4 linked regions of the Homo sapiens genome follow. The protein of the gene in region 1 purifies or fractionates together with the protein of each later gene. This does not show direct contact. Each region holds a gene or a part of one and is shown on either strand. Other genes may lie near its edges.

Region 1 (3,842 bases):
CAGTTCTGTTCCCAGTGCTCCATTTTCCTTGTCTTCCTCTCTTTTAGGTACTGCTTCTCCGAGATGGCCCCAGTGTGTGCGGTGGTTGGAGGGATTTTGGCACAGGAAATTGTGAAGGTAAAACATCACTGTGGAGCAGAAAATTGTTAACCATGACTTTGTATATGTGCTGACAGAGAGAATGGAAACTGTCTTAGACAGCTGCCTGCTTTCTCTCACCCCATTCATCTTTGTTTCATGCCCTCCCCATTTCCACCTCATCCCATTTTCTCTGGCCCATCCAGGTGCCATTCAGCAAATGACCTTGGAGTGCCTGCTCTGTGCTTAGCTCACAGTTGGCCATAGTGCCTCGAAGGTGTGATCTGCTCTCCCCTAACTGTATTAGTTATCCAGTGCCTGTTGTATTGGTCAGGGATTCTGCTTCTCATAGCTCTATAAGTGAGTACTATCATGATCCCCACTTAAGAGGAAGACACTTGGGCCCATGAAAGGGACTCCAGAACCTGTGCTCTTAACCTCTGTACAGTTTATCTCTATTCATCACCATGACATCAAAGCCCTCCCTTTTTTTTTTTTTTTTTTTTTTTTTTTTGAGATGGAGTCTCGCTCTGTCCCCCAGGCTGGAGTGCAGTAGCACGATCTCAGATCACTGCAAGCTCCACCTCCCGGGTTCACGCCATTCTCCTACCTTAGCCTTCCAAGTAGCTGGGACTACAGGCGCCTGCCACCACGCCCAGCTAATTTTTTTGTATTTTTAGTAGAGACAGGGTTTCACTGTGTTAGCCAGGATGGTCTGGATCTCCTGACATCGTGATCTGCCCACCTCAGCCTCTCAAAGTGCTGGGATTACAGGCATGAGCCACTGTACCCAGCCGCACCCCCCCCCTTTTTTTTTTTTTTTGAGACAGAATCTCACTTTGTCTCTCAGACTGGAGTGCAGTGGCATGATCTTGACTCACTGCAACCTCCGCCTCCTGGGTTCAAGCGATTCTCCTGCCTCAGCCTCCCGAGCAGCTGAGAGTACAGGTTCCCACCACCACACCAGGCTAATTTTTGTATTTTTAGTAGTTCACCATATTGGCCAGGCTGGTCTCGAACTCCTGACCTTGTGATCCTCCCACCTCAGCCTCCCAAAGTGCTGGGATTATAGGTGTGAGCCACCGCACCCGGCCAAGCCCCCGTCTTTTTAACCACACACTGTAGGTATTTGTAGAGAAATCAGTTTCTGTGTCCCCATGAACACACCAGGAGCCCCTCAAGGCTCTGTACAGGATGACCCGTGACCCTGTTAGGTAGGTGTTAGTGTGTCTCTCAGAAGGGAAGCATCTTATACAGGGTCACATAACCAGTAACTAGCACAGCCTTTTGAGGGTCTTCTGGAACATTTGGGTTGCTAAAACTATACCATACCCCCAAATATATTGTACATTCTTTGCAGACTTTGCTATTTGCCCGAAGATGTTAAATTTGCCTTTTGCAGGTTCTTGGCTGCCTTCGTGGACTCCGGTGAGGCTTTTTCCTTCTTTCTTATGGAGCAGAGTCGTGCCTGGTTAAATGATTGGCCATGTCCATGTACATGTCAAGTTTGAGCTTGGGAGGACAGTTTGGAGGCCAGCCCTTAACACTTTGTCTTGGGGTCTGTACATTCTGGAGGCGTTTGGCTCAATTTGTTAGTCACACCGTTTTCCTAAGGCTACTTTTTTTTTTTTTTTTTGTCTATTTTTTCTGATCCTTCTCTCTGGTCTAAATTCTTCCTTTGATCAAATCTAACTTTCTTCTATGTAATGGGCACCGAGGAGATATTTGGAGGGGGAAGAAAAGTGTGCAATGGCCATACCTCTTTCCTTGCTCACATTTTATACATAGCCCAGAGTGATGTGAAAATTACAGTTTATATGCCCAATCTGAGAAGAGGGTAATGGCCACCCAGAGGACTGTTCGAGCAGGATTCTGAGGCTCCCTGTAGACAAACTGCAGGAAAGAGTGCAGCAATGGGAATGTTCTAAGTGGGGAATGGGAATGTACATATTTTTGTAGCCTAAAATGACGACACCACCAATAATAGACAAGACTTACTGAAAGCCCACTGTCTGCCACACAAAGACAGTGTTTTTTACGTGGATACTCATTTCATCTCCCACCGGCCCTATGAGGTAGGAACTCCTGTGATCCCTGGTTTATAAAAGAGAGACTAAGGTGCAGGAAAGAAGATGCTTGCCCAGGCTAGTGAGTGTGGTGCCAGGATGTGGGCCCAGGCAGTCTGGTTTCTGAGCCTGTCCTCTTCACCACGGGGCAGTCATGCATCAGGTGTTGCCTTCAATGGCACCATCATGTAGAGACTGCATGGACCCCAGGGCCGCTGCCCTTGCATTGTCAGCCTTACTTCTGCACATCCCATTGAGGGGCTCCCCCTAAATTTTTCATGTGGGATGGAGACTGGAGGTTGGGGCAGGTAGCCTTGACCCCATTGTTGGTGGTAGTTTCTCACATCCCCATCCTCACACAGCCCCCTCCTTCCTGCCTGCTGGAGACAGCTGGTGCCCAGCATCTTGTTTCTGTTTATCCCAGATAGCCAGAGTACTCTGCATTCTTCGTTGCTGGGTGTGTTTGGAATCTCCTCCTACCCCATCTTGCTTGGGAAGCACTTTACCTTTTGCCCCATGTCACCCCATGCCCTGCTCTCATCCCCAGTACTCCTTCATACTTATTACTGGTCAGCCTTCAGCCAGCTGGCAGGCGGGGCCTGCAGTCCAAGGGCCTCAGACTCACCTTTCTCTCCTGAGGCACTGTCTGAGCGCCTATGGAAAGCTTACACTAGGAGATGGGTCAAGCGCAAGTCTGCTCCTTTGGAATCATCTTTTGCGTCTTTCCTTTCTTACGTCCTTCTAGATACCCTATTTTATATCCATGTCTACTTCCTTGGGTTTAAAGCAGTTTTCCTTTCTCTCCATCCCCACCGTCCACGGCAGGTCTCCCTGTCTATGGTAAGAGAGGTGATAGTGAAAGCAGCAGCCATCCCAGGTTCATGGTAAAACACATACCATCTCCTGTATCTTGGGTTTGAGGGTCTAAGAGTTCCACCTGTGTACTGTTGGACCCTTCCACCTGGCTAGGTTGGTGGCATCCCCAGTATTGGTAAAGGACTCCTGGCCCTATTATTATTAATAGCAGCTCCTACTTACTAAGAATTTACTACGTGCTCGGCACTTTACAAGCCTAGTCACATTTCATTCTCACCAAAACTCTAGCAGGCAGGTGCTTTTTATTTGCCTATTTGCCCAGAGAAGCAAACTTCTTTCTGATCCAAGCTCCATGTGGACAGAGACCTCAGAATCCTTAATGTCTAGCTGAATACCTGGCATAGAGTAGATGCTTAATAAATGTTCCCTTGACTGGGTGCAGTAGCTCATGCCTGTAATTCCAGCACTTTGGGAGGATTGCTTGAACCTAGAAGTTCAAGACTAGCTTGGGCAACATGAGGAGACCTCATCTCTACAAAAGTCCCAGCTACTCAAGAGGGTATGGGAGGATATCTGGAGCTGGGGAGACGGAGGTTGCAGTAAGCCGAGAATGTGCCTCCCACCTGGGTAGCAGAACAAGATCCTATCTCAAAAAATTAAAAACATTTACAAATAAATAAAATTTCCCTGGAAAAATGGCTGACTAACACTATTTGTATATGGTAGATGTGATTGTCCCTGTTTTATGGATGAGGAAAAGGGTTTGGTGCTGAGTTTGAAGAGGAGCAGTTCAGGATGTGTAGCCCCACCTTCCTCATGAATGATGGGACGGTGCTCCTGGGAACCGTTAAACCCTGCCCTGGCAGCTTGCCTAGGTGATGT
Region 2 (2,650 bases), on another chromosome or scaffold:
TAGAGACCCTAGGCCCTCTTCCCTTAGAGCCTGGGTGCAAAAGCTAGGGAAAAGAAGTAGTTAGCTACTTCTTACAAAGAACTCTTGCTTCCCTCCTAGTTACAGGTGTTAGTGGGATGGGGTGTTTAGCTGGGTAGAGATGGCCTGAAGCAATCTGTTGTGCCAGAGAAAGTTTTGGCTTCTATAGGTTGAACCATACGAAATTGCCACTTTAAAAGTCAAAAACAGTCCAATGTTAGCAGTTTCGTATGTTTCAACGAATAGTTACAGCCTTTTATTTAGACTGCATAACCTCGTGCAGGATCATCTGAGGCTCGGCCTCAGTTCGGTCCTCCATAAAAAAAGGTAACCGCGTAGCATAATACTCCTGCTCCACTGCGCCCTTCTTGTTTCGCAGTTGGGCAGTCCATGAATTACTTGGTTAATTGCCCCAGTTCTTCACTGACCTTGAACTAATGGAGTAGGAATGACAGGAGACCCAGCCTGCCAGTGAAGCAAGGAAGGAGATGTCCAGTGGGATGTTGCATGGAGCTGGGACTCCATGCCCAGATGACCCTGATTTTATAAAACTGGTAACAGTGTGTACAGATATGTTTCAGGGGAAAAGTCTCTTTCCTCCAGCGTTACGGAGCCCTCACCAGCATTTGTTTCCACAGCCGATATTATGTACACGGGGACAGTTGACTGCTGGAGGAAGATTGCAAAAGACGAAGGAGCCAAGGCCTTCTTCAAAGGTGCCTGGTCCAATGTGCTGAGAGGCATGGGCGGTGCTTTTGTATTGGTGTTGTATGATGAGATCAAAAAATATGTCTAATGTAATTAAAACACAAGTTCACAGATTTACAGTGAACTTGATCTACAAGTTCACAGATCCATTGTGTGGTTTAATAGACTATTCCTAGGGGAAGTAAAAAGATCTGGGATAAAACCAGACTGAAAGGAATACCTCAGAAGAGATGCTTCATTGAGTGTTCATTAAACCACACATGTATTTTGTATTTATTTTACATTTAAATTCCCACAGCAAATAGAAAATAATTTATCATACTTGTACAATTAACTGAAGAATTGATAATAACTGAATGTGAAACATCAATAAAGACCACTTAATGCACGCTTTCTATTTTATTGAACTCTTATTAACTGTAAAATGCATTTTTAAAAGATCAAAAATGCATATTTTCTAGCATGATTCATGTATCAGTCAGCAGCCAAGCTTCTAAATGCCAGATATTATATTGAGAATGTATTATATGAGAACGTACAATGCTTAAAGTTCCGGTTTTCAAACTTAGGCAGGTCATATTCTATCTATCTTATCCAGCATTACTGTAGGCTAGAAAGTGATAATGGCTTTCATAATCCTGCCTTGTCTTAGGCACTTTCCTGCAGTCTTTAGAAATTCTAAGATTCTGCTAAAAGTTTTAAATCACAATCTGGAGAATTTTCTATGATTAGGAAGTGCTCTGTTTTCATCCCTTTAGATAACTGTGACACCTAGAATTTTATGTTAAGTAGAGAGTATTCATTGAAAATCAAGGCCAGGTGCAGTGGCTCACACCTGTCACCCCAGCACTTTGGGAGGCAGAGGTGGGCGTATCACTTCAGGCCAGGAGTTTGAGACCAGCCTGGCCAACCGAGCGAAACCCCATCTCTAATAAAAATACAAAAAATTAGCTGGGTGTGGTGGCGCACACCTGTAATCCCAACTACTCAGGAGGCTGAGGCATCAGAATCACTTGAACCCGAGAGGCAGAGGTTGCAGTGAGCTGAGATGGCATGCCACCACATCCATCCTAAGCGACAGGGCAAGACTCTGTCTCAAAAAAAAAAAAAAGAAAGAAAATCAGTTGTCTTAGTTTAAGCTACTATAACAAGGTACTGTAGACTGATGGCTTATAAGCAACAGAAACTTATTTCTCAGTTCTGTAGTCTGGAGGTCCAAGATCAAGGTGACACTGTGGTCAGGTTCTGATGAGGGCCCTCTTCTGGGTTATAAACTACGGACTTCTTGTATCCTTACATGGCAGAAAGAGCGACAGAGCTCTCTGTAGTCCCTTTTATAAGCTCACTAATCCCATTCATGAGGGCCCTACCCTCATGACCCAATTACCTCCCAAATGCCCCTCCTCCAAACACCACCACTTTGGGGGTTAAGATTTCAACAGATGAATTTTGAAGGGACACAAACATTCAGTCCATAGCATCACTTATCAAGCTAGTATTTAATACCTCTTAGGCCCCGTGGAAGGGAAAATAGATAGGAACCTGCCCTGAAAGATGCTTCAGTTGGGGAGAAAAGGTGAAATTCCATTGTTAGACAATTTGTTTAAGACAATACATCTTGCTTGAGAAGGAATAGAAGGGAAATGAAATGGGGGGAGGGAGTGGTAGGAGATGGAGGCTTTGAAAGAAAATAACCAGATTTAGAAACATGGGTATAGAAAGCATCCTCCAGTACTTCTGTAACAATTTATCAAGACCTACAGGAAGTCAGTTTTGGATTTGCTCCTCCGAGATTTGCGAGCCAGAGGAAAATACTTAGACTATCAGGTTGGAAAGTTCACACTTGGACCAGGAAAAGACCAAGCAGTTGCTATAGTCTCCTGGATTGTGACTAATCTGGAGGAAGCAAGTCCCTGTATCCTTG
Region 3 (3,842 bases), on another chromosome or scaffold:
TATATACTTTATTATTATTATTTTGAGATGGAGTCTTGCTTTGTCGCGTAGACTGGAGTGCAGTGGCGGGATCTTGGCTCACTGCAACCTCCACCTCCCAGGTTCAAGCGATTCTCCTGCCTCAGGCTCCCGAGTAGCTGGGATTACAGGCATGCACCACCACACATGGCTAATTTTTGTGTTTTTTTTAGTAGAGATGAGGTTTTACCATGTTGGCCGGGCTGGTCTTGAACTCCTGACCTCAGGTGATCTGCCTGCCTTGGCCTCCCAAAGTGCTGGGATTTCAGGCGTGAACCACCTCAGCTAGTCGGGAGGCTGAAGTGGGAGAATTGCTTGAGCCTGAGAGGCAGAGGTTTCAGTGAGCCGAGATCATGCCACTGCACTCCAGCCTGGGCAACAAGAGCGAAACTCTGTCTCAAAAAAAAAAAAAAAATTATATTCAATGAATATAACTGAGTGAGTAAAAGAATGAGCCAAAGACCTGGAAGAGATCTAAGGGGTCCATGATTCCAGATTTCAGGCGGGGCCACATTCAACTATCATTTCTTCCAAATTTTTGCAGTGGAATACAAGTTTGAAACCTGGTTATCTCCTTAATTCTCCATGTGCTGTGAGGAGATTTGGCATAAATTGAACAATTGGACTTGAGTATTTCCATCTAATATTAAACTACCTTAAGTACTTTGGCACTGCAGAAATGTAAAGCATCCCTTTTATTTGTCATTTCTAGGGGAGGTAACTCCAGGACTATCTCAGGTGGAATATGCACTTCGCAGACACAAACTAATGTCTCTGATCCAGAAGGAAGCTCAAGGGCAGAGTGGGACAGACCAGACAGTGGTTGTGCTCTCCAACCCTACATACTACATGAGCAACGATATTCCCTATACTTTCCACCAAGACAACAATTTCCTGTACCTATGTGGATTCCAAGAGCCTGATAGCATTCTTGTCCTTCAGAGCCTCCCTGGCAAACAATTACCATCACACAAAGCCATACTTTTTGTGCCTCGGCGAGATCCCAGTCGAGAACTTTGGGATGGTCCGCGATCTGGCACTGATGGAGCAATAGCTCTAACTGGAGTAGACGAAGCCTATACGCTAGAAGAATTTCAACATCTTCTACCAAAAATGAAAGGTAACAAATGGGAGCAGAAGTCACATTACAAACCAGATTGGGATTAAAACCTTTCTTGCCTGTTTAGACAAGTCCTTAATTTTGTTATCGTAGCACCACCATGAAAAGACCATGAGCACCATGAAAGAAATGTAAAGTCTTTTTCAGAAGATTGAGCTTCTTTAAAGATTTCATTTATGCCTGGTGCATTGGCTCACGCCCGTAATCCCAGCACTTTGGGAGGCCGAGGCAGACAGGTTCCTTGTGGCCAGGAGTTCAAGACCAACCTGGCCAACATGGCGAAACCCCGTCTCTACTAAAAATAGAAAAATTAGCCAGGCATGGTCGCAGGCGCCTGTAATCCCAGCTACTCAGGTGGCTCAGGCAGGAGAATCACTTGAGCCCGGGAGGTGGAGGTTGCAGTGATCCGAGATCATGCCACTGCATTCCAGCCTAGGCAACAAAGCAAGACTGTCTTAAAAAAAAAAAAAGATTCATTTATTCATTTGCAGGAGGTTACAGTGAGCCAGTGAGCTAAGATCCCGCCACTGCACTCCAGCCTAGGCGACAGAGCAAGACTCCATCTCAAAAAAAATAATAAAATGAAAGTATATAATTTAAGAGTTTTTGGTATAGTCATAGAATTGTGCAACCATCACCACAATGAATTTTAGAACATTTCAATTAAAAAAAAACTCCATGTTCACTGGATTATTCATTAATGGAGACTGTTACCTATCCTAGTTTGAAATCTCACAGAGAATTTTCTTTTAAAGCAAAGGATAAGCCAGACACAGTGGTGTACGTCTGTAGTCCAGCTACTGGAGAGGCTGAGGTAGAAGGATCGCTTGAGGCCAGGAGTTCAGGTCCAGACTGCACAACGTAGTGAGACCCCATCTCCAAAAAATAAATAAATTAAGGACAGGATGGGCATGGACCACTCTTCAAGATTACTGACCAGCTTCTTGATATTTGACAACTACTTCTTATCTTAGTGCTCTTGCCAGCTCTTCAAAAGGAGGTACTGTTCTCCAAGAACGATCCATGCATCACAGCATCAGAATCACCTGGTAATGCATATTAAAATTAAAAATGCATAATATGTAATAGAAATTAAAATCTCAGGCCTCCATCCCCTATCTACTGAATCAGAATCTGCATTTTAACAGATCTTTTGTGGTTCATATACAGTTGAGTTCTTTTTTTGTTTTTTTTTAGGCAGGGTCTCACTCTGTCACCCAGGTTGGGATGTAGGTATAGTGGCACACTCATGGCTCACTGCAACCTCGAACCCCAAAGCTCAAGCAGTCTTCCTGCCTCAGCCTCCAGAATACTGGGACTACCTGGGCACACCACTATGTCTGGCTAATTTTTTTTTATTTTTTTGTAGAGATGGAGTTTCACTTTGTTGCCTAGGCTGGTTTTGAACTCCTGGCCTCAAGTGAGCCTCCCACCTCAGCCTCCTGAAGTGCTGGGATTACAGGTGTGAGGCACCGTGCCTGGCCATAGTTGAGTTCTTGTCCCTCAAAGAAATTACTTTCTCTACAGTTATTCTGGTGAAATTTTAATCAATCCGAATGTTTTGAGATTTTTCTTCTGGGAATTTTTTCAGAACCTACACCACATTATAAACTATCTTTAGTAATTCTTAAAAAACTTTAGCTCTGGGAAGTATTTTATTTTTTGAAGTATCTTATTTGGAAAATAAGATAGATGCTCAAGTTTAAAAATACTGATTTTAGGTCAAGATAATGTATAATTATAAAGTTTTTGTTTGATTTTTCTTACATGGGTTACAAATCATATCTGAAGTTAGCTTCTAAAAGAGAATTCCAAAAATGTTTTTCACAATCATAAAATATATTAGACTGTTTCCTGTAAAGCCTCTTTTGGAAGAAAATACTCATTTGAATATGTAAGTTCTAATACATTTGATTAAATTCTTTTTATTTATAGAAATGTTTTCCATTTTATAGATAATTAGCCTGTTCAATTCATTGAACTTTCTTATGTCTTCAAAATCCACATAAATGTGGGGCATAGAATCATTTTCTTTCTAGCTTTTTTCTTACATTAGTTGCTACTTGTCATGTTCTACTGTCTAAGTTTTATTAATTCAGTATAGTTACAATCTCATGTAAAATAAATTTCTCAAAAGTACTTCTCGGTCACCATTCCTTTTTTTTTTTTTTTGAAACAGAATTTCGCTCTTGCCCAGGCTGGAGTGCAATGGCACCATCTCGGCTCACTGCAACTCCTGCCTCCCAGGTTCAAGTAATTCTCCTGCCTCAGCCTCCCGTGTAGCTGGGGTTACAGGCACGCGCCACCATGCCCGGGGAATTTTTCTGTTTTTTTTTAGTAGAGACAAGGTTTTACCATGTTAGTCAGGCTGGTCTCGAACTCCTGACCTCAGGTGATCCACCCCCCTCAGCCTCCCAGGGTGCTGGGATTACAGGCGTGAGCCACCGTGCCTGGCTAAAATCATATTTATTGAAAGGTTTAAAAACCTTTAAAAAAGTGAGCTATGATTTCATACACTTTGAACGTGTAGTAGAGATTGTTTTACTTTTTAAAAATTACAACAATTGGCCGGGTGCAGTGGCTCACGCCTGTAATCCCAGCACTTCGGGAGGCCAAGGGAGGTGGATTGCCTGAGATCAGGAGTTCGAGACCAGTCTGGACAACATGGTGAAACCCCGTCTCTACTAAAAATACGAAAAAATTA
Region 4 (3,842 bases), on another chromosome or scaffold:
CAGGGATGTCCCTGTATATTTTATTTTATTTTATTTTTAAATCTTTCCTAAGGATGTTGTTTCACCATGGATACAATTTTGATGTTGGTGCTAAATTGCACATCAATAACTAATCCTGTGCATTGCTAAGAAACCCAAAGGTGAAAGTGGCAGTTCAGCAATACTTTCAGTGTTTACTCTCCAGAGAGCTCTTACAGCTCTTCTGGTTTAGAAAGGCCTCTGTGAGCCAAGACCAGACAATAATTTTGGTTCCACTGCACCACTGTTTAAAATAGTCTCAACCAGGCTTTGAATTTAACATCCCCAGTACAATATGTAGGGAAAGGTCAGCTATTTATTTTGTTGCCTGGTTGTTTTATGGGGAATCTTTATAACTAAGAAGATGTACAGGCTTAATTTCTTAAAAAGTCAGTGTTGGGTAATACTCTTGTTTGTAGAAACCAGCACAGTTGGGATCAAATTAAACTTCATTCCCTTGATTTTGTGAATTTGGAGTAGCCTGTAATACAAACTCGGTAGAGAATAGCACCCATAACCCTGACTAACTTTCAACTGCCCTTATAAGGTCTTTGCTGAAAAAGCAACTGTGTTGCACCTGTACTCATGCACACACACTCCTCCGTGGAAACCATACAAAGTAGCCTACCACAGGGTTTGAGATTGTAATTGTCTCTATAGTGAAGATTTTGCTATGAAATTAACTGATGTTACCTGACCAGTAGGACTTGTTCTGAATGTTGGTGAATTTTACATTCCACAGTCTACCATGTCTAACGTTGTATTGTTTCACTGATCTAGACTATCAACCATTGATGAATCTGGTTCCATTTTATCAGATATCAGCTTTGACAAGACTGATGAATCACTGGTAATAAACATTTGATCTCTGAGAATTACCTACTTTTCTTACCTCTGCTTCCCCAGGAATATCTCTCCTGTCTTCTCTTCTGAACATCCTATATTACTATTTTATTAGTTGATGTGTTATAGATTCTGAGCTAGCAATTTAAAATATAAATCCACATGAGCTATAAGAGGCTGGCTTATATATTAGTTTCTGAAGTGAGAATATATAATTCAGAATTTGGCATAAGTTGAGTTCATTTAATAGATCTCTGTGTGCCACATGTACTAACTGATTATATTTTGACTTATTAAAGCCCCAGCTAATAATAAAAATATTAGCAAGACTGTATGTCGTCAGGGTTTATTTGCTGCTCTTAAATAGACTTGTGCCTTATTTCTGAATTAGTTTGGTTCTTGGGGAAAGCATAGTCATACTTCACAATTAGAAGGAAACCAAGGTCCTGGGATTTCAGCCAGAAAAGTGTGATTAGAGTTTCTAGGCACTATATAATGCTTTCATCAACAATGGTTAACATGTTAAACTATTTGTTGCCCTGCTTTTATGGGGCGGCACACTTCTTTTAACTTACAGTGATGCTTCTGCATAAAAGGTCATCTCCTGATACAGTCTTTGATATAGTTCATTGATTTGTGCATCTTTTCTGTTACTAGCTGAAAACTAGCAAACAAAACAAATCAGGAAGTTTTTGGTGACTGGTTTTCTGGTATAGCAAAACAGGTGACAACTATTTGTTACATGGCTAGGAGTTTTCTGTTCAGATTCAGTGTTTGACCAGGGAAAATACGGCCATTTTATAGATAAAAATATTAGGCATCACCTTTCTCAAATAGGGAATGATATAGTGGAGGTCTGGAATATATAATAAAACTAGATCATATTATCAGTTGATTTTTGAGCTAGACCTATGATACGATATTTCTTGTAACTGAAGCTGAATCAAACAACCAGTAACTAAATTACTGGACCATGACTTGGGGAAGTTAAATTTATTTAGCTAAGCTATTATTTGCTGTATACCACTGTTTCTAGATACTGTTTTCAGGGATGATCAGGAGTAAGGAAATCACAGGTAACTACTAAAATGAATGCAAATAGTTAAAATAGGTGAATTGAAATGAGACCACAATAAAAGACAAATAGTTCTTCAGTGGTGGACACGTTTTAGGGCCTAAGTTCCTAAACTGTAGAACTTTTTTTTTTTTTTTTTTTTTGAGACAGAGTCTCACTCTGTCACCCAGGCTAGAATGCAGTGGCGCAATCTCAGCTCACTGCAAGCTCCGCCTCCCGGGTTTATGCCATTCTCCTGCCTCAGCCTCCAGAGTAGCTGGGACTGCAGGCGCCCGCCACCACGCCTGGCTAATTTTTTTGTATTTTTTTAGTAGAGACGGGGTTTCACCGTGTTAGCCAGGATGGTCTCGATATCCTGACCTCATGATCCGCCCACCTTGGCCTCTCAAAGTGCTGGGATTACAGGCATGAGCCATCGCCTGGCAACTGTGGAACTTGTGAAGTGGCAATATTATGCAGAGCATTTGATTAGACAGTGGCAATCCCTTGGGGGCAAGAATCACATCTAATACAATCAGTATAGTGCCTAACATTCTGTAAGTTCTAAAACTAATTACAAAAATAATCAGAAATAAAGGATCAGCCACTGGAAATATGGCAGAATTTGATTCTTTAACCTCTTCTTGCCTCTGTGGTATTGATTCCTGATTTTATTATAATAGCTTCAATTTTTCAAAGAAAGCACATTAACTTACTATAGCTCTATAGCTACAACACTTGAGACCTTCCCTTCTCTAACCCTCCCCGAATTGTACGTTAGGTAGCCTGACTGAAGAAGCCTTTAAAGTTCTCTGTAAATTTATTTGCACAGGGTTTAGGGATGGCCTAACCAAAAAAAGAAATTAATACAGTGTAATTGTCAACAGGATTGGGACTCTTCTTTGGTGAAGACTTTCAAACTGAAGAAGAGAGAAAAGAGGGTATGTATGATTTGTTTAGTCTTTTTTTAAAACAAAGTAATAATGGAGTTATTTTTGGAAATTTTGCCATGATACTGCATTCCTGTCATGTTGCTCTAGCCATTGTTAAGCACATACTACAGATGAATTCATGCTGTGGGGACAGTATTGATATTCTTTTTTTTTTTTTTTTTTCTTTTTTTTGAGACGGAGTTTTGCTCATTTCCCAGGCTGGAGTGCAATGGCGCGATCTCGGCTGAACGCAACGTCCGCCTCCCGGGTTCAAGCAATTCTCCTGCGTCGGCCTCCCAAGCAGCTGGGATACAGGTGCCTGCCACCATGCCTGGCTAATTTTTGTATTTTTAGTAGAAACGGGGTTTCACCATGTTGGCCAGGCTGGTCTTGAACTCCTGACCTCAGGTGATCCACCTGCCTCGGCCTCCCAAAGTGCTGGGATTACAGGCGTGAGCCACTGCTCCCAACCAGTACTGGTACTCTTTGAAGTAGTAACTTAGGACAGAATCCTGTCCATTTCACTGTTTAGGCTGCATTTCAATTCATTCATACAGTGGAAAAGGATAAACTTAAGTTTGTTTTGAATTGTCATATGAATTTTTACACAGAACTTTTGTGCTCTAATATAAGCTTCATATAATGGGATATATAGAGATCTATCTGTGTATGCTTGTTTAGGGTACTTAATGTGTTTCCAAGACTTCATGTCCTTAGTTAGGATTACAGCTGTACTTTTTCTGGTGGTGTCATCTAAATTTCTCCATAGCTTGCTCATTTTTTCTAGGGCACTGAGAGCATTTTTGTACAACATATTCTTTTGAAACAGCTTATTCTTCATGTGGAAATAGGCAAAGAGAGAGAGAGAGAGAACACATTGTTTGTTATTTACTGTAGCCCTAATCCCCAGGACCTGTATCCAAGTTGTTTGATGGAATAATTTTATCTTCTGTGCTTCAGATCTGCTTGGCATTAAAGTTACGGGTCTTTGTCTC

Evidence for each region. The genes of interacting proteins can lie anywhere in the genome.
Region 2: the proteins of SAE1 (region 1) and SLC25A4 purify together in Homo sapiens (affinity purification with mass spectrometry, with the first as the bait; one large-scale study listed by BioGRID). This does not show direct contact.
Region 3: the proteins of SAE1 (region 1) and XPNPEP3 purify together in Homo sapiens (affinity purification with mass spectrometry, with the first as the bait; one large-scale study listed by BioGRID). This does not show direct contact.
Region 4: the proteins of SAE1 (region 1) and RACGAP1 purify together in Homo sapiens (affinity purification with mass spectrometry, with the first as the bait; one large-scale study listed by BioGRID). This does not show direct contact.

What each region holds. Positions count from the first base shown.
Region 1 is NC_000019.10:47,203,624-47,207,465, forward strand, and holds part of SAE1 (SUMO-activating enzyme subunit 1), read left to right. Parts: intron 1-47; coding exon 48-117; intron 118-3,842. UniProt on the Homo sapiens protein: The heterodimer acts as an E1 ligase for SUMO1, SUMO2, SUMO3, and probably SUMO4. It mediates ATP-dependent activation of SUMO proteins followed by formation of a thioester bond between a SUMO protein and a conserved active site cysteine residue on UBA2/SAE2.
Region 2 is NC_000004.12:185,146,158-185,148,807, forward strand, and holds part of SLC25A4 (ADP/ATP translocase 1), read left to right. Parts: intron 1-656; coding exon 657-814; 3' UTR 815-2,650. UniProt on the Homo sapiens protein: ADP:ATP antiporter that mediates import of ADP into the mitochondrial matrix for ATP synthesis, and export of ATP out to fuel the cell.
Region 3 is NC_000022.11:40,881,040-40,884,881, forward strand, and holds part of XPNPEP3 (xaa-Pro aminopeptidase 3), read left to right. Parts: intron 1-730; coding exon 731-1,138; intron 1,139-3,842. UniProt on the Homo sapiens protein: Catalyzes the removal of a penultimate prolyl residue from the N-termini of peptides, such as Leu-Pro-Ala. Also shows low activity towards peptides with Ala or Ser at the P1 position.
Region 4 is NC_000012.12:50,001,261-50,005,102, reverse strand, and holds part of RACGAP1 (rac GTPase-activating protein 1), read left to right. Parts: intron 1-798; coding exon 799-868; intron 869-2,802; coding exon 2,803-2,856; intron 2,857-3,842.